Homo sapiens: one gene and its partner. The protein of the gene in region 2 interacts with the protein of the main gene of each other region in a pairwise test. Each region holds a gene or a part of one and is shown on either strand. Other genes may lie near its edges.

Region 1 (7,004 bases), on a different chromosome or scaffold from region 2:
GGTCCTCAACCTGCGCTGAACGTTAGAATCACCTGGAATGTTTAAAAAATAATCTCAGGCCAGGTGCAGTTGCTCACACCTGTAATCCTGTAAAAAAGTTGCTCACACCTGTAAAAGCACTTCAGGAGGCCAAGGTGGGCGGATCGCTTGAGCTCAGGAGTTTGAGACCAGTCTGGGAAACACGACAAAACCCCATCTCTACAACAAATAACAAAACTTAGCTGGGCATGGGGGTGCATGCCTGCAGTCCCAGCTACTCAGGAGGCTGAGGTGGGAAGATGGCTTGAGGCCAGGAGGCAGAGGTTGCAGTGAGCCACGATCACACACTATTGCACGCCAGGACGACAGACGGAGCCAGCCCCCGTCTGAAAAAAATTAAAATAAAAAGAATCCCAATGCCCAGGCTGTACCCAGAGGACCTCAATCAGCACCTGTGGGTGGGGCCCGGGCATCTGCATTTTCTAAAGCAACCTAGATGAAGCTCATGCACAGCTAGGGTTAAAGTGAGTGCACCAAAGCAGGATCTCCTGCACTGCAGCCACCTGAGCATCTCCAAACACACATCCTGACCCTGGAGGTCAGGCAGGCCTGACACGCTGCATTTCTAACCGTCTCCCAGGGACATTCTTAGTGACTCGAATGTGTAGCCAGGCTTAGGAGGCACAAGCCCAGGACTGTGGTTCTTAATGTGAGGTCCCCAGATCAGCAGCCTCAGCATCGCCTGAAATTTGTAAGAAATATAAATTCTTGGGTGGCATCCCAGGCCCAGAGACTCAGGGGTGGGGCTGGAAATCTGTGTCTTGACACACCTTCCAGGTGGTTCTTGTAACACTCAGGCTTGGGAAGCACTGGCATAGAGCAGCAGACAGAGGCGGGCCCATGTCCTGCCCAACTCAGACTCCACCAGCAGCAGAGAGAGCGACTCTCGGTGTTTTTGGAAAGCATTTGCACCAGCGAGCCTTCCCTGGGTCCAGAACAATACCCGTGACATTCATAGGTAGGAGGGAGATGGCACATGTTGAGAAGGAAAAAAATGTCATGACTAAATCATAGAGATGGGGAAGCTGAGGCTGAGGGAGACATGGCCTCGAACAAATCTGCAGCCTCAGGCTTGGGATAACAACTCTCACCCTACTGCCCTTCCAGACTCAACTCAGGCACTGCCTACCCCCAGAAGCCTCTGCCGCTCCTTCAGGGACACACACACCTGCCCTGCCCCTCCTCAGGTCCCTGCCCTGTGGTGCTCCCATTCAGGACCCCCACTGTGGCATGAGAAACCCTGAATTATTCCATATATCTCGGTTTTGCATCCCTGTTCAGACTCCTTATTCTTCCTGGTAGAACATAGGACATCCTATTTCTTGCATTTTCATTTTTATGTGTTTGTTTCTTTTTTTCCAATCTTCCACGTTACCACAAACTCTGTACTGCGTACATACTCAATGCTCAGCAAATACTTAAGGCTGATTCACTGAGGTTGGACCTGAGCTTTTCTGTCTTTGTGCCTTGAACACGGTCTGAACTTGGCAAATGCTTCTCCAATGACTGAACGAATCAAGCCAAGGAAAAGGGAGCAGTAAAAAGATAGTGAGGAATTAAGCAGACTGGAGGGTACTCATCTTTCCATGGGCCTTTCTTTGCACTTTGCAATGAATGCTACTCATTAAATCGTGGTCCAAAAATGCCTCCCAGTCATGACTGCTGGTATCGCTCCATTATTCACTGCATTCAACACCATCATCTTTCTCATATGAAACACTGGCAGTCTCTTAAGGAGCAATGACAAAGCCAACCACAAAACAAAACTGATCAAGGAATTAGAACAGGCATGTTTTAATGCTAATTGTAAAGGGAGACTGACCTGTGGACATGAGGGTCTCACGGAAAAACTTTCCTTTAACTACGTCCAATTCTAAGGTCTTGCAATGAAACAGGCATACGAAATAATGACGGTAAACAAAATTACCAAATACTACCGCATTTACTTGCACAGGTCATTCATTCCACAAATATTTATTGACCACCACGTGCCAGCACCATTTTAGTCACTGGGCACATGGCAGTGACCAGCATGGACACAAACCGCTTCCCATATGGAACTTACACTCCAGACCAGTGCTGCCTGCCCAATAAAGCTTTCTGCACTGATGGAATGTTCTGGATTTACATTGTCCAATATGGTGGCGACTAGTCCCAGGTGGCTGTTGAGCCCGTGAAATGTGGCTGGTACTGGTTCGTTGCCTGTTAGGAACCCAGCCACACAGCAGGAGGTGAGTGGCGAGTGAGTAAGCAAGCAAGTGAAGCTTCGTCTGTATTTACAGCCGCTCTCCAACGCTTGCATTACTGCCTGAGCTCTGCCTCCTGTGAGATCAGCAGCAGCATTAGATTCTCATAGGAATGCAGAGCCTACTGGAAACTGCTCATGCCAGGGACCTAGTTTGCACACTCCTTATGATAATCTAATGTCCGATGATCTGTCACTATCTCCCATCACCCCCAGATGAGACCGTCTAGTTGTAGGAAAACAAACTCAGGGCTCCCACTGATTCTACATGATGGTGAGTTGTATTATTACTTCACTATATATTACAATGTAATAATAATAGAAATAAAGCACACAATAAATAGAATGCGCCTGAATCATCCCAAAACCATCCCTCAACCCTGGGCGGTAGAAAAATTGTCTTCCATGAAACAGGTCCCTGGTGCCAAAAAGGTTGGGGACCATTGGTCTAGAGGACTCACCCATTGAGGCAGATGTAAAGAGAATGGTGGTGAAACAGTTTCACTGACTGGTACAGACAAATCATTCCTCTGCCTGCCTTCGGCTGTGCACCTATGACCCCTGTTATGCTCCAAGAGAAGTGAACACACATATCCTATGGCAGGAATACACCTTAGACTTCAGAGCAACTTCTATACATCTTACTAAAGTCTCACCCTAGGCCGGGCACAGTGGCTCACACCTGTAATCCCAACACTTTGGGAGGCCGAGGCACGCAGATCGCCTGAGTTCAGTTCAAGACCAGCCTGGCCAACATGGCAAAACACTGTCTCTACTAAAACCCAAAACATTAGCCAGGTGTGGTGGTGTATGCCTGTAATCCCAGCTACTCGGGAGGCTGAGGCATGAGAATGACTTGAGCCCAGGAGGCAGAGGTTGCAATGAGCCAAGATCACTCCACTGCACTCCACCTTGGGCTACAGGGTGAGACTCCATCTCAAAACAGATAAATAAATAAATAAAAACAAAAAAATAAAGTCTCACCCCCAAACCCACCTCCACAAGCTGGGAGCTGCTCTCCCAGTTGACCAGCAGAGGATGTTACCTCAGAAGACACTCACTTCTTCAGGAAGGACTGACAGGGTAGGGGTGAAAACATAGGCAGGCATGCCAAGTGGCAGCCCTTCCTGGAGCATGGAATCCATGCACCGACTGAGTAGGACCAGGCACACTTCTTCTTTTTCTTTTGAGATGGGGTCTGGCTCTGTCAGCAGGCTGGAGTGCAGTGGCACCATCTTGGCTCACTGCAGCCTTGACCTCCGGGGCTCAAGCGATCCTCTCACCTCAGCCTCCTGAGTGGTGGGACCACAGGCGTGCAGCACCACACCTGGCTAATTTTTGTATTTTTTGTAGAGACGGGGGTCTCACAATGTTGCCCAGGCTGGTCTCAAACTCCTGGGCTCAAGTGAACCTCCCATCTCGGCCTCCCAAAGTGTTGGGATCGCAGGCGTGGCCCCCACATCTGGCACAGGCATAGGCACACTTCTGGTGGTTGAGTGTGCTGGAGGGTCCGGGACCAGGCGGTCACTGGCAAGGAGAGATGGTTTGGCTTGAAGAGGATGCCTAGAGCGAAAGTGAGTCCAGCCGTCCACCCAACCCAGGCAGGCAGCCGGGAGCGCTCTCCAAGGTGCTGAAGGGACTGCCTCTCTTCTCTCCTCCTCTCCTCTCCAGACTTGGAAGACAGCACCTTACTCAAGTTCGAGCCAGGACCCCAGTGCAGCGGTGGCTCCATCCACCGCATGGCCTCTCACAGCCATGAAGCTACCAGCGGGGGAAGCGGCCAGTCCACGGAGACACGGACCAATGTGGAAAATTCACACCAACATCACCCTCTCCTCTAGTACTCACAAGTCTTTTTGTCATCTAAGGACACAAAGGGCGTTACATTCAACATTATTAGCTCACAGTTGAGAGCTCGTCATATTTAGAGTTGTGGAGGCTTGGGGAAAACAGGAAGAAAAAGTCTTGGAAAGGAACAGCAGAGGCTCCTGCCCCCACCCCCACACTCCACCCCTTCTTGCTCTCTCCGGCTGGGTGTCCTCAGAAGAGAAGGGGTCAGAGTTCTCTCTCTCCTTCTCTGTGTCAGCTGGGGCTGCTCACTCACTACTCCAGATCGCTGCTGTAGGCGGGTGCCGGTCCTCACTCCCCGGCCAGCTCATCTCAGGATTCCTCACACAAAGCCCATCAAACGGCCTCACGGCCAACGTGGGTAGGGGTGCCCTTCAGCCACATTTGTTTCTCAGCTATAACTGGCAACAAAAAAATAGCTGTTTGCTTCTTCCTTTCTCTTTTCACCTTACGGAGCCTTTCACCACCCGCCCCCCGAAGTAGCGGAAAGAGAATCTCGGAGAAAACGCTTTCGTCTCCAACTGCTCAGGGCTTGCTTCTTGTTTCTGAAATGAGTTTCTGTTGGCATAATCTCCGCACCAATGAACCTGATTCCTTCTAACCTGGGCACTCATTTGAAAAAGAAATTACTTGTTGCATAGTCATAGTCATAGCCAAGCACAAAGCATACGCCCCATGGTAGTTTATTTTGTTGAGATGAGGGATTTTTCTCCCTAAAAGGGCACTAACAGCATAAACGTGTGTTTAAAATGGAAACGAAGCACACCACTGCCTCTGTCATCTGAGCTCCCCGTTTACAGGCCTGGTGGAGATTCAGAGTCCTTGGCCAGTGGAGAGCAAGCAAGGCCGCAAGGGCGCAGTGGCTGCGTTCTGGGGGACGGGGTGGAAAATGTCTCCGGGTGGCAGGTGTTTTGTGCGCGTGTGTGTGCGCAGGCGCCTGGGGGGATCTGAATTCCGACTGTGGGTGTGTGTGATTTGTGTGGGTTGAGGAATCTGGGCCGGTGAACGGGACCTGAGTATGAGGGGGAGAGGCTTGGGCGTGAGATGACTCATATCTTTCAGGGTGTAGGAGGGCTTATTGGAGGGGGTAACTTTCGATTCGAGGGGTTCTGTGTACACAGCACCCGAAGGAAAGATCTATACCTGTGCGGTGCAGCACCGGCATGCATGGTGGGCCTCAGGGGGCCAGGGGTCCTGGGCAGTGTATGGGTTTGCCCGTCTGTGCATGGGCATTCACCTGCAATTCTGGGCCACTGTACGCACAAGAGAACGAGAGATATAAACGAGAGGAAAGAACAGGAGGTGTTTTTGCACAGGGGCATTTAGAGAGCGACGTACCTAGCAAAGGCCCAGGCTCTGGGATGGCTGTCCTGAGTGTGACGCCTGCTGGTTCCTCCCAACCCACACCCACTGGGAGCCTCCACTTCCCAGTGTGGAAAATGAGAATAACAAGAAAATCACCCTCTAGAGGTGTAAGAATTAAGGGCTGTAATTCATTTAACACTTGCCACATGCTTGGCAGACAGTAAGTATCTAATGTTGCTATTTAACATCATTTACATGATCACCAGTCTCCTGTCCAGATGTTGGTTCTAATAATGATCATTGTAAGTGACATGCATTGCCTGGAAACTGTAATGAAAAAACTAACGGTAAATAATAATGTATGCTTACTATATTCCTGGCATAGCCACGCACACCATTCTCAATTAATCCTCACCCACCTTACAGGTATTGTTATCAACCTTTTGTAAAGATGAAGAAACAAGCTCAGAGAGGTTAAGTAATCCAACCAGGGTCACAAAACAGGGCATGTAGGGCAGGGATTCAAGCCCAGGATGCAAGCTGGGGTTGTGACTGGAAGCAAGTGTGCCTGTACCCCACACCCCCAGGCCTCACCATGCAGACGGTAGGAGCTACTCAGCTCAATCAGGGAGTACCCTAAGGGGAGGACACACCTGGAGGAGGAGGAGTTGGCACAGGTGTCCCCAGCTGAAATTCCACACCAATTCCAGCTACATGTGGAATACGCTGGCCGCTGGTGCATCATTCATGAAAATCGCCATTTCCCCAAGTCAGCGCCCAGAGCTGGGCTGAGGTTCCAGAGCTTCGCTGATGGCTGCCCAATATTCCCCCACTTCTTGTGCAAAGGAAAAGTCAGAGTGGAGCTGGGGCCATTAACTCCTTCCTCACTGCGACATGGCTGTCACCACCCACCAGTTGACTGGGAAGGAGGCATGGAGGTCTCTGCCCCATTCTGGCGATCCCCACACCCTGCAGGCTCCTTCCATGGGCTGCCTGGGGACACTCAGTGCCATAATCACCCCCTTCCCAACAGGAAGCTGGGAGCCCTCCAGAAAAGTGGCCCAGATGTCCAGGCCCGAGTCCTCAAGACCAGAAGGGTCAATTCTATTTCCTGTCATGCCATGTTGCCAACCAAAAGGGAGAGCCGGCCATGAAGCTCCCCATCTGCATCCCTGCCTGGCTTTGCTTATGGGAGAGCTAAGAACCGCATACCCCTTGAGAGGATGTTGACAATCTGGGCTTCTTCCGGCAATGTGATGCAAGAACGAGGGGGGTTTGGTCCCAGACAGATCGGGGATCCCTGCAGCCAAAGGCTGGGACTCCTGAATCACAAAGCCCGGGCCTTACTGGCCTCATCTGTAGAATGGACATGATCAGGCAGGACCACAAGGAGGGGAAGGGCTTAGGGGAGCAGGATGCTGAGGGAGCTGTCTGGCTGGAGTGGAGAGCCCAGGGAAGTGGACCTATAGAGAAAAACATCTCTCCCCTTAACCCGTCAGATCCTAAACTACACGGCCAGCCACAGAATCAGATCCTTTCTTCCCTAAAAAGTCACAACATAATCGCC
Region 2 (12,176 bases):
CAACACTTCTTTGGGAGGCCGAGGTGGGCAGATCACTTGAGGTCAGGGGTTCAAGAACAGCCCCGCCAACATGGCGAAACCCCGTCTCTACTAAAAATACAAAAATTAGCCGGATGTGGTAGCGGGTGCCTGTAATCCCAGCTACTCAAGAGGCTGAGGCAGGAGAATCGCTTGAACCCAGGAGGCAGAGGCTGCAGTGAGCTAAGATGGCACCACCGCACTCCAGCCTGGGTGACAAAGTGAAACCTTGTCTCAAAAAAAAAAAAAAAAGAAAAAGAATATATTACATGGCCATTAAGCACATGAAAAGGTGCTCAGCATCATTAGCCATCAGAGAAATGCAAATTAAAACTGCAGTGAGATTTTCTGCTAAAATTCAAAAGACTGATAACCCCATATGTTGATGAGGATGGAGAACAACTAGATTCTTTCACATAGTCAATGGGAGTGTAAAATAGCTCAATAGCTTTGTAAAACTTTGGCAATATCTATTAAAGCTAAATATATGCCTATCATATGACTCAGCAATTCCACTCCTAGGTATTTGCCCAAGAGAAATGAAAAAAAAAAAAAAAGTCCACAAAAAGACTATAGAAGAGTGTTCATAGAGGCTAATTTATAATTGATAAAAAGTAGAAATTACCCAACAGTAGAATGGAGAAATAAATTATAATTTATTTGTACAGTAGAATACTACTCAGCAATAAAAGGAACAAACTACTGATACAAGCAATAAAAACATGTTAACAGAAACTTGACACAAAAGAAACATACTATACGATGACTTTTTGTTTTCTTTTTTCTTTTCTTTTTTTTTCCCCAAGACAGAGTCTTGCTCTGTTGCCCAGCCTGGAGTGCAGTGGCATGATCTCGGCTCACTGCAACCTCCGCCTCCTGGGTTCAAGTGATTCTTCTGCCTCAGCCTCCCGAGTAGCTGGGATTACAGGCGCCCACCACCACACCCAGATAATTTTTGTATTTTTAGTAGAGATGGAGTTTCACCATGTTGGTCAGGCTGGTCTCGAACTCCTGACCTCAGGAGATCCACCTGCCTCGGCCTCCCAAAGTGCTGGGATTACAGGCATAAGCCACCACACCCAGCCTATATGATGACATTTACGTGCAGTCCTAGAACAGAGCTGCTGGGAGTGGCTCGGGGCAGCTCAACAGAACAAGACCTACAGATGGAAGCACCCCCAAATGACAGCAAATATCTACAGGACATAGTTTAGGTACTGTGGTAACATATGTTATCTGGGTAATATGAACATGTATAATGCTACTCAAATTAATTAAATTGTATGGGTTTCTTTTGCTCTTAAAACAACGAACTTTGTTGTTGTTGTTGTTGTTGTTTGAGACGGAGTCTCGCTCTGTTGCCCAGGCTGGAGTGCAGTGGCGCCATCTCAGCTCACTGCAACCTCCACCTGCCGGGTTCAAGTGATTCTCCTGCCTCAGCCTCCCAAGTAGCTGGGACTACAGGCACCTGCCACCACACCTGGCTAATTTTTTGTGTATTTTTGGTAGAGGCGGGGTTTCACCATGTTGGCCAGGCTGGTCTCGAACTCCTGACCTTAAGTGATCTGCCCACTTTGGTCTCCCAAAGTGCTGGGATTACAGGCGTGAGCCACTACGCCTGGCCAACAACCAGCTTTTAATAAGAATTTGCTCAGGGCCGGGTGTGGTGGCTCATGCCTGTAATCCCAGCACTTTGGGAGGCTGAGGTGGGTAGATCACTTGAGGTCAGGAGTTTGAGACCAGCCTGGCCAACATGGTGAAACCCCATCTCTACTAAAAATACAAAAATTAGCTGGGCATGGTGGCACGCACCTGTAGTCCCAGCTACTCAGGGGGAGAGGGGCTGAGGTAGGAGAATCACTTGAACCCGAGTGGCAGAGGCTGCAGTGAGCCAAGATCATACAACTGCACTCCAGCCTGGGCAATAGAGTGAGACTCCGTCTCAAAAAGAATTTGCTCAGGGCTAAGCTTGCCATAGACATTATTCCATTTAATATGACAGCCATGCAAGATAAGGATTATTCTTCTCTTCTCATGAAAGAGGAAACTGAGGTTCAGGACGGTTAAATGATGCCAACCTTTGTTTGTTTTTCACTATACTGTACTATCTCCCACCCCACACACCTAGCCTTTCTGAGATTTCATTGCTTTAACTGTAAACTGAAGAAACTGCATACTATGGTTTGAATATGTCCTCCTAAGTTCACGTGTTGGAGACTTAAACCCCACTGCAGTAGTGTTGAGAGGTGGGCTCTTTAAGAGGTGGTTAGGTCGTGAGGCCTCTGCTCTCATGAAGGAATTAATGTTATTATTGCAAAAGTAGATTTGTAATAAAAGCAGGTTCAGCCCCATCTTGCTCTCTCACACTTCCACCTTCCACCATGGGATGGCGCCGCAGGAAGGCTTTTACTTGATGTGAGCCCCTCAATCCTGGACTTCCCAACCTCCAGAAATGTAAGATATAAATATCTGTTCTTTATAAATTGCCCAGTCTCTAGTATTGTTACAGCAGCACGAAATAGACTAAGACACTGCACATCCTGGTCTTTGAGAGCCCTTGTAGCTTTCATTTTCCACGGTCTGACAGCAGGTGTTGCCAGCCACTGCCTCTAAGAAAAAAATACCCTACTCAGAGCCCCATGTGTCTCTGCCATCTCCTCCCAACCACAGCTGTTTGCACCGCAGTTGAACACTTTGACCTAAACAGAGCTAATCAGATTCATTCTTTCTCCGTGAAAATGGAATAGGCAGTGAATAACTAGTCAGTAAGGTGATGTGAGCACCAACCTGTCTAGCTTTGGGGCTGGAGTTTGTACCAAAGCCATGTGCAGGTCAAAGTTATGGGGGAGCAGGAGCCAAGGGCAAGGTGAAGAAGCTGGTGTATTGTCTTAATCAGTTCAGGCTGCCATAACACACTACCGTAGACTCGGTGGCTTACAAACAACAGAAATTGATTTCTCACAGTTCTGGAGGCTGGCAAATCCAAGAGCAAGGCAGATTCTGCGTCTGCCAAGGGCCCACTTCTTGGTTCATAGACAGTTGTCTTCTCACTGTGTTCTCATGTGGTAGAAAGGGCAAGGGAGCTCTCTGAGGCCTTTTTTTTTTTTTTTTTTTGAGATGGAGTTTCGTTCTTGTTGCCCAAGCCTGGAGTGCAATGACACGATCTCGGCTCACTGCAACCTCCGCCTCCCGGGTTCAAGCGATTCTCCTGCCTCAGCCTCCCGAGTAGCTGGGATTACAGGCATGCGCCACCATGCCCAGGTAATTTTGTATTTTTAATAGAGATGGGGTTTCACCATGTTGCCCATGCTGGTGTGAACTCCTGAGCTCAGGTGATCCACCCGCCTCAGCCTCCCAAAGTGCTGGGATTACAGGCATGAACCACCACACCTGGCCTCTGAGGCCTCTTTTATGAGGGCACTAATTCCATTCATGAGGGCTCCACTCTCAGGACCTAATCCCCTCCTAAAGGCGCCACCTCCTAATACCATCATCTTGGGGAGTTGGGTTCAATATATGAATTGGGTGGGGAATGGGGGTCAGAAACATTCAGACCATAGCATGTGTTCTGGCTCCTGAGTACCTTTTAAGCACTCTTTCTACATTTAGAGAATTTCCAACATCATACGTCCTGCCTCCTCAAGATGGAAGCCGGAAACTCTCTTTCTCAACTCCCTTTACAGTTAGGGCTCAGGCATGTGACATAGCTTTGTCAATCAAACACCCAGTAAGACTTGGATTCAGAAGTAGGCACCAGGCAGAAACCAATGTCTGGCCAGAATGATGGCAGAGGCTTTTAGGCTTGCATTTCTGGCACCCAGTACCCAACATGATTCCCTGGAGCTGCCAGGTATGGCCACCAATGGCAGTGGCCACAGGATTTTTGCTGGAGCTGTGCACTTCCTGGTTTAGGCATTGCTCTGGGCAGTGTGGCCTCTAGTAGGAAGCCTGAGAATACCTAATGTCCCTAAGTAAACTCCTTCTTGCCTTCAATGACCTAGAGAAGATGCTTTGCAACAAGAGTCCTGAGCAATATCCTGAATCAGACAGGCTCCCTTAATCTCTCTAGAACCATCTCCCTCTTCCTGGCCTCTCCTCCTTTTCCTGAAGAACCACGTGATGCAATGGCAGGATCTCAGCTCACTGCAACCTCTGCCTCCCGGGTTCAAGCGATTCTCCTGCCTAGTCTCCCAAGTAGCTGGGACTACTGGCACGCACCATCACGCCCAACTAATTTTTGTATTTTTAGTAGAAACGGGGTTCCACCATGTTGATCAGGCTGGTCTTGAACCGCCTAGTCAAGTGATCCGCTCTCCTCAGCCTCCCAAAGTGCTGGGATTACAGGCATGAGCCACCGCACCCAGCCAGTGACCTCTTCACCTTGGCAGAGAAAACAACTCAAATTCAGGACCATGCAGCACCCCTCAACCAAAAGGAAACTGCTCCCCATTCGCTGACAGGAAATACATAACATCAAATCAAACACTGTTTAGGACATCCCTGGTTTTGCTGAATCCAAATGAAAAAATAGCCTCTCCCAGAATCAGCAGTGATCATTCCAAAAACGAATCTCCTTGGCTATTCAGAGCTGGGTTCCATGGGAATACCTTGGCCAGAAAAACATTTACCACATTAAAAATAAAGATTACAGTTTGTGAAAAGAGAAGGTGAAACTCATTTGGCAGTTGCTTAGCAATTTCTCTTCTTGCACCGGTATTTTGGGGAAGGATCCATCTGGAAATCGGAAAAAGGCTTCAGAGCTTTTTTTTCCCAGTCTGAGGTAGGGAGGGGAAGATGAGAAATAAATGTAGCAGGACTGCCCTGGGCTCATGACAGGTCCCTACTCAGCCAGCCTCTGTCATCACCCCGGGATTCACATGCAAGGCTTTCCAGAACATTCGGTCTTAAAATACTCACCCCGAGGGCACAGCCTCTTGACCTAGTTCTCTCATAAACTCTGAGGACACTCTCATCCCTGTTCTGTCATACTGCTTTAAAAAAAAAAAAAATCCTCAGGCTGGGCGCAGTGACTCATGCCTGTAATCCCAGCACTTTGGGAGGCCGAGGCAGGCAGATCACCTGAGGTCAGGAGTTCGAGACCAGCCTGACCAACACGGTGAAACCCTGTCTCCACTAAAAACACAAAAAATTAGCCGGGCATGGTGGTGGGCGCCTGTAATCCCAGCTACTCAGGAGGCTGAGGCAGGAGAATCACTTGAATCCAGGAGGCGGAGGTTGTAGTGAGCCGAGATTGCAACACTTTACTCCAGCCTGGGCAACAGAGTGAGACTCTGTCTCAAAAGAAAAAAAAAAACAAAAAAACAAAAACCTCAGACAACCTCTGTCTCTCAGTTTCCTCATCTGTAATTTGTAGACAGTTATGGGGGACAGATGTGTCTCGTTGCTTGACACAGCTGTGAAAACACTGGCCCAAGCTAGTTGTGGGCTCTTATGAACCATTCTTGTCACAGGATTAAACCTCACTAAGGCACAAATCCTTCAAAGACCATGTGGAGGCCAGGTGCAGTGGCTCATGCCTGTGATCCCAGCACTTTGGGAAGCCAAGGTGGGAAGATCACTTGAGCCCGGAAGTTCAGGATGAGCCTGGGCAACATGGCAAGACCTCATCTCTACAAAAAATACAAAAATTAGCCAGGCGTGGTGATGCACACCTGTACTCCTAGCTACTTGGAAGGCTGAGGTGGGAGGATTGCTTGAGCCAAGGAGGTCGAGGCTACAGTGAGCTGTGCCTGTGCCACTGCGCTCCAGCCTAGGTGACAGAGTGAGAGCCCATCTTAAAAAAAAAGGATCAGCCGGGCGCAGTGGCTCACACCTGTAATCCCAGCACTTTGGGAGGCTGAGGCAGGTGGATCACAAGGTAAGGAGTTCAAGACCAGCCTGGCCAATATGGTGAACCCCGTCTCTACTGAAAATACAAAAAATTATTCAGGCATGGTGGCATGCACCTATAGTCCCAACTACTCCGGAGGCTGAGGCAGAGGAATTGCTTGAACCCGGGAGGCGGAGGTTGCAGTGAGCTGAGATCACGCCACTGCACTCCAGCCTGAGCGACAGAGTGAGACTCCATCTCAAAAAAAAAAGGGACCATGTGGAAATCTGCCCTAGAATGGAAAGCAAGACACCAGTTGTCAGAATACTGAAGCTATTACTAGGGATAGGCTGTAAAGAGGAGTCTGGAGTCTAGGATGGTTCATTTCCAGGGCTGAACATTAGAATCACCTTGTGGAGCTTTGAAAACTCACAGTGCCCAGGCCATACATCAGATCAATTACATCAGAATCTTCAGGGGTGGGATCAGGCATTGGTATGTTTGAAGCTCCACAGGTGATTACCATATGCAGCCAAAGTCAAAAATCAAAGGTCTAGATGCACCAATTTTATAAAAATGGGATTCATCTGTGTGATATAAAGAGTTACAAAGTGTAATGTAGAGTTAGTATATGACCTAGCAATTCCATGCCTAGGCATATGCCTAAAGGAATTGACAGCAAGGTCTCAAAGAGACAGTTGCACATGCACGTTCACAGCAGCATTATTCACAACAGCCCAAGGTAGAAACAACAAATGTCCATCAGCCAATGGATGGATAAGCAAATGTGGCATAACTATACAACGGAATATTATTTGGCCTTAAAAAGGAATGAAGGCCTGGCACGGTGGCTCACGCCTATAATCCCAACACTTTGAGAGGCCAAGGCAGGCAGATTGCTTGAGTCCAGGGGTTCAAGACCAGCCTTGGCAACATGGTGAAACCCCATCTCTACTAAAAATATAAAAATTAGCTGGGCATGGTGGTGCATGCCTGTAGTCCCAGCTACTCGGGAGGCTGAGGCATGAGAATAGCTTGAACCTGGGAGGCGGAGGTTGCAGTGAGCAGAGATCGTACCACTGCACTCCAGCCTGGGCGACAGAGCAAGACTCTATCTCAAAAAAAAAAAAAAGAAGAAGAAGAAGAAAATAAGATAGTTAATGGTTAATTTTATCTTGTGTGAATTTTCCTTCAGTTTTTTAAAAATCTTACAAGGCGTCCCTGAATCTGGGAAAATAAACACCAGAAATGGCTCCCTGCTTGTGTGTCCCTATCGGGTGTCCTGGCCAGCCCCCGAGCTGCAAGGAGGCAGGGATGGCCAGCCTCAGGCACCCGCATAATGAGGTCTAATGCAGACCATCTGAGCAGTTTCTCTTTCCTAAGCCCTCGGCTTTTCAAATATGTGCTTTCCCACCTTGAGGTTTGCTAGGAGAACAGCTACTTGGTGTTTCCAACCACAGACTGAGATTGGAATGTTTCTTTATTCTCATTGTTTTAAAAGAACTTGAGCCTTATGAAACCAAAAATAGCAAGGGAAAACATGGTCAAATTTCTGGTTTCAGCAAAATCTATTTAGCTACCTTGGCTCTAGAAATCACTTTCCTTCCATTCTTGGCAAATGCTACCAAGTGGCTCCTCGGACCAAAACCCAATGCTGGATCTTCAAAACAAGACTGGCTGGAGGAAACAGAAGTGCGGAGGCGGAGACCATGCTGTGGCCTCTGGCCTCCTGTGACCCCAGAACTTGGTTTTCACCCCATGCAGGTACCTTTTGTGACAGGAAAGAAAGGATTCGAGCTGCAGTTTTGCTGGCTAACGTGAGTCATAAGGGATGGAGAAGTCAATGTTTCCAGAGGGGTGGTGTGCTGGTAGCCTCGCAGGCCTGGTGAAACTTGAAGATGAACATCTGTCCCATCTAAGGAGAAGAACGCAAGGCCCCAGAAAGGCCTCCGGGCCTAAATATAAACAATCACCTCAAACTGGAAACAAACACCCGACAATAGGGGAATGGATAAACTAACCAGTCAATCTGTACAAATGAATATTACTAGGCATTCAAAAGGAAAAACTACTCTAATCCACGTAATAACGTTGATGAATCTCACATACATGTTGCCTGATATACCACACTGCCTGACTGTGGACAGTGAAGCATTTTTTCTGCTTCTGGTACAGCCACTCTCTCCCTCCAGCCTTCATTTTTTCTTTTAAATCAAGTTGATTAAGGTATACTTTACTTACAATAAAATGTACCCATTTTAAGCGTGCAGTTCAGTAAGTATAATAAATGTACACATGCCTGTGTAACCACCACCCCAATCAAGACTTAGAACATTTCTGGCTGGGCACCCAGCACTTTGGGAGGCCGAGGCAGGAGAATTGCTTGAGGTCACGAGTTCAAGACCAGCCAGGGCAACATGGCGAAACCCCATCTCTACAACAAAAAACAAAAATTAGCCAGGCATGGTGGTGCACATTTAGTCCCAGCTACTCGGGAAGCTGAGGTGGGAGGATCCTTTGAGCCCAGGAGGTTGAGGCTGCAGTGAGCCATAATCGCACCACTACACTCCAGCCTGGGCAACAGAGCAAGACCCTGTCTCAGAACAACAACAACAGCAACAGCAAAAAGACTTAAAACATTTCTACCACCCAGAAAGTTTCCTCAGGCTCCTTTGACTTCAGTCCTTTTCCCACCCCTGGCTCCAGGCAACCACTGACCTGCTTTCTGAACTATAGATTAGTTTTGCCTGTTTTAGAACTTTACAGAAATGAAATCAAGGTCGGGTGCAGTGGCTCACGCATGCAATCCCAGCACTTTGGGAGGCCGAGACAGGTGGATCACCTGAGGTCAGGAGTTCGAAAACAGCCTGGCCAACATGACAAAACCCCATGCCTATTAAAAATACAAAAATTAGCAGAGCATGGTGGGGGGCACCTGTAATCCCAGCTACTCAGGAGGCTGAGGCACGAGAATCACGTGAACCCGGGAGGCGGAGGTTGCAGTGAGCCAAGATCACACCACTGCACTCCAGCCTGGACGACAGAGCAAGACTCTGTCTCAAAAGGAAATGAAATCAAATGCTTATTTTGCACAACCTTCTGTAAAGTTCATCCATGTGGTCATGAATATCAGTTGATCATTCCTTTCTATTGCTGAGCAGTATTTCCCTGGATAGAGGTGCCTCAATTTGTTTATTCACTCACCTGTTGATGGACATTTGCATTGCTTCTAGTTTCAGCCTATCGTGACTAAAGCTGTGACATGTGTTTTTGTTTCTCATTTATCTAGGAGTGGGATGGCTGAGTTATATGATAAGTATGTATTTCACTTTCTAAGAAACAGTTCTTCAAAATGGTTGCACCATTATACATTCCCAGCAGCAATGTATGGGAGTTCCAGTTACTCCACATTCTCACCAACATTTGGTGTTGTCAGTGTTTTAAATTGTAGCCATTCTTGGCTGGGCATTGTGGCTCACACCTCTAATCCCAGCACTTTGGGAGGCTGAGGCAGCCTCACTTGAGCCTGTCACTTGAGGCCAGGAGTTTGAGACCAGCCTGGCCAACATGGCAAAACCCCATCTCTACTAAAAATGCAAAAATTATGGCTGGGCGTGGTGGCTCACACCTGTAATCCCAGCACTTTGGGAGGCCGAGGTGGGCAGATCACTTGAGGTCAGGAGTTCAAGACCAGCCTGGCCAACATGGCGAAACCCCCTCTCTACTAAAAATACCCAAAAAAAAAAAAAAAAAAAAAAAAAAATATATATATATATATATTAGCCAGGTGTGGTGGCTCACGCCAGCAATCCCAGCTACTCAGGAGGCTGAGGCATGAGAATCACTTGAACCCAGGAGGCAGAGGTTGCAGTGAGTCGAGATAGTACCACTGCACTTCAGCCTGGTCGACAGAGTGAGACCCTGTCTCAAAAAAAAAAAAAAATGTAGCCATTCTAGCTGTGTGAGTGGCACCTCATTGTGATTTTATTTTCCTATAGACTTCCTTTAAAATGCAAATCTTGGTGGGGCACGGTGGCTCACACCTGTAATCCCAGCACTTTGGAAGGCCAAGGCAGGCAGATCACTTGAGGCCATGAGTTCAAGACCAGCCTGGCCAACATGGTGAAACCCCATCACTACTAAACATACAAAAATTAACCAGGTGTGGTGGTGGCGCATCCCAGCTACTCTGGAGACTGAGGCACGAGAATCACTTGAACCCGGGAGGCAGAGGTTGCAGTGAGCTGAGATCATGCCACTGCACTCCAGCCTGGGCAACAGAGCGAGACCCTGTCTCAAAAGAAACACACACAAAAAACACAAACACACAACCCCTGACTCTCTTTGAAGACTCAGTGTAGAGGAAGTCACATGTGAAAGACCCTGTAAAAGAAGTTAAGGGTTTCAGATATTATGCTGTGAACAGCGGGAAGACCCCAGGGGTTAACATGGGGGGAGGAGGTGGAGGTATTTGCACTTATGCATCTGAGAAGTGGGGCACTTCCAGGAGCCCTGTGTGTCCAGAGGAGAATTTCTCTTGCCCCAAATTTCCCTGCTGCGAGCCACTTCTGATTTCTCCAAGGTGTTGTTTTGTGAGGCTCACTTAGTCATTTTCTTTCTGGCCAAGGAGGTAGAGCACTATCCCTGCCTGCTTCTCGGGAACATATTGTCCGTATTGCTTGTGACTCGCAGTCAGAGAAATATTCTCTGTGCTTGCTAGAGTGTGTTTTAAATTAAAGTGCCAGGGGATGTGGAGATGGTCATTAATTTTAAGTGCATCTATTGTTAGCAAATGATGTCACCGCTGAGCTCTCCAACTTGTCACAAGAAGTCTGGATATATTTCGGGTTTCTGTAGCAGGGACAGTTCCTGTTTTGAAGTGTGCAGGCTATGAATACGGTCTGCTTTCTGTGAGGAACGGTAGAGCTTTTGGTGCACGTTTAAAATGATACTGGCTGTTGGAAGCAAACATTGTGCCCCAATGAGTCAATCAAGTTTCATTTTTTTTTCAAGGTAGGAGGAATGGCAAGAAGTTGACTGTTAGTAATTATATAAATATCAACCTCTGTTCTTTAGAACCTCTTCGAGGTAGGAAGTCATGTCCTATTTATCACAGTGTTCCACGTGCCTTGCTCCAATTTTTTTTATTGCTTATTTATTGAATCTCTTATAAAAGAATTTTCTCAAAGACAAAGAGCATGCTATTATATCCCTCATAAATATCTCTCGAGCGTTTTGAAGGCACACAGTGTATGCCTGTTGGTTGACTGAACAGAGCAAGTTCCGGTTTTTGAAAAGGTGGAATAAAGAGGAAGAAAACTCCATTACTCCTGTTTTAGATGATCTGGTAAAATGTTCTCTATCAGCATCGCATACAGAGGTCTATTACATAGATCATCATATCTCAAATAATTAAATTCACTTGAGGGTCAGAAAAAAACAGATTCTTTGTGTAGAATCATTTACTGAAGAATTTAAAGGATTTTTCCTTGGGCTATCTCAGTCAGATTGGAACAGCTAGAGCCAGGGAAAATATTTCATAACGAGTCTTCTTGGTATATTAAAGTGCACATAACAGAGCGAGAAACTTTGAAAAATAACTTCAATATCCATAATCCTATAATTCCAAGGCATTTTTCATTTTTTCTTTTTCCTTTAGGAAGGTGGTTTTTTAAAGGGACTTTTGTTTTTAACTAAATGAGCTTAAAATAATGTGATTAGAAACCACTGTAGGCTGGGCACGGTGGTTCATGCCTGCAATCCCAGCACTTTGGGAGGCCGAGACAGGCAGATCACCTGAGGTCAGGAGTTCAAGACCAGCCTGGGCAATATGGCGAAACCCCGTCTTTACTAACAATACAAAAAATTAGCTGGGCGTGGTGGCAGGTGCCTATAGTTCCAGCTACTCAGGAGGCTGAGGCACGAGAATCACTTGAACCCGGGAGGCGGAGGTTGCAGTGAGCCAAGATCCATGCCACTGCTCCCCAGCTTGGGCGAGAGTGAGACTCTGTCTCAAAAAAAAAAAAAAAGAAAAGAAAAGAAAAGAAAAAACCACCGTACGGTGGCTCACGCCTGTAATCCCAGCACTTTGGGAGGCCGAGGCGGGCAGATCACGAGGTCAGGAGATCGAGACCATCCTGGCTAACATGGTGAAACCCCGTCTCTACTAAAAATACAAAAAATTAGCCAGGCGTGGTGGCGGGCACCTGTACTCCCAGCTACTCGGGAGGCTGAGGCAGGAGAATGGCGTGAACCCGGGAGGCGGAGCTTGCAGTGTGCCGAGGTCGCACCACTGTACTCCAGCCTGGGTGACAGAGCGAGACTCCAT

Evidence for each region.
Region 1: the proteins of NYX (region 2) and JPH3 interact in binary tests that used the Homo sapiens proteins (3 or more experiments, as listed by UniProt).

The regions. Positions count from the first base shown.
Region 1 is NC_000016.10:87,605,504-87,612,507, reverse strand, and holds part of JPH3 (junctophilin-3), read right to left. Parts: intron 1-7,004. UniProt on the Homo sapiens protein: Junctophilins contribute to the formation of junctional membrane complexes (JMCs) which link the plasma membrane with the endoplasmic or sarcoplasmic reticulum in excitable cells.
Region 2 is NC_000023.11:41,448,264-41,460,439, reverse strand, and holds part of NYX (nyctalopin precursor), read right to left. Parts: intron 1-12,176.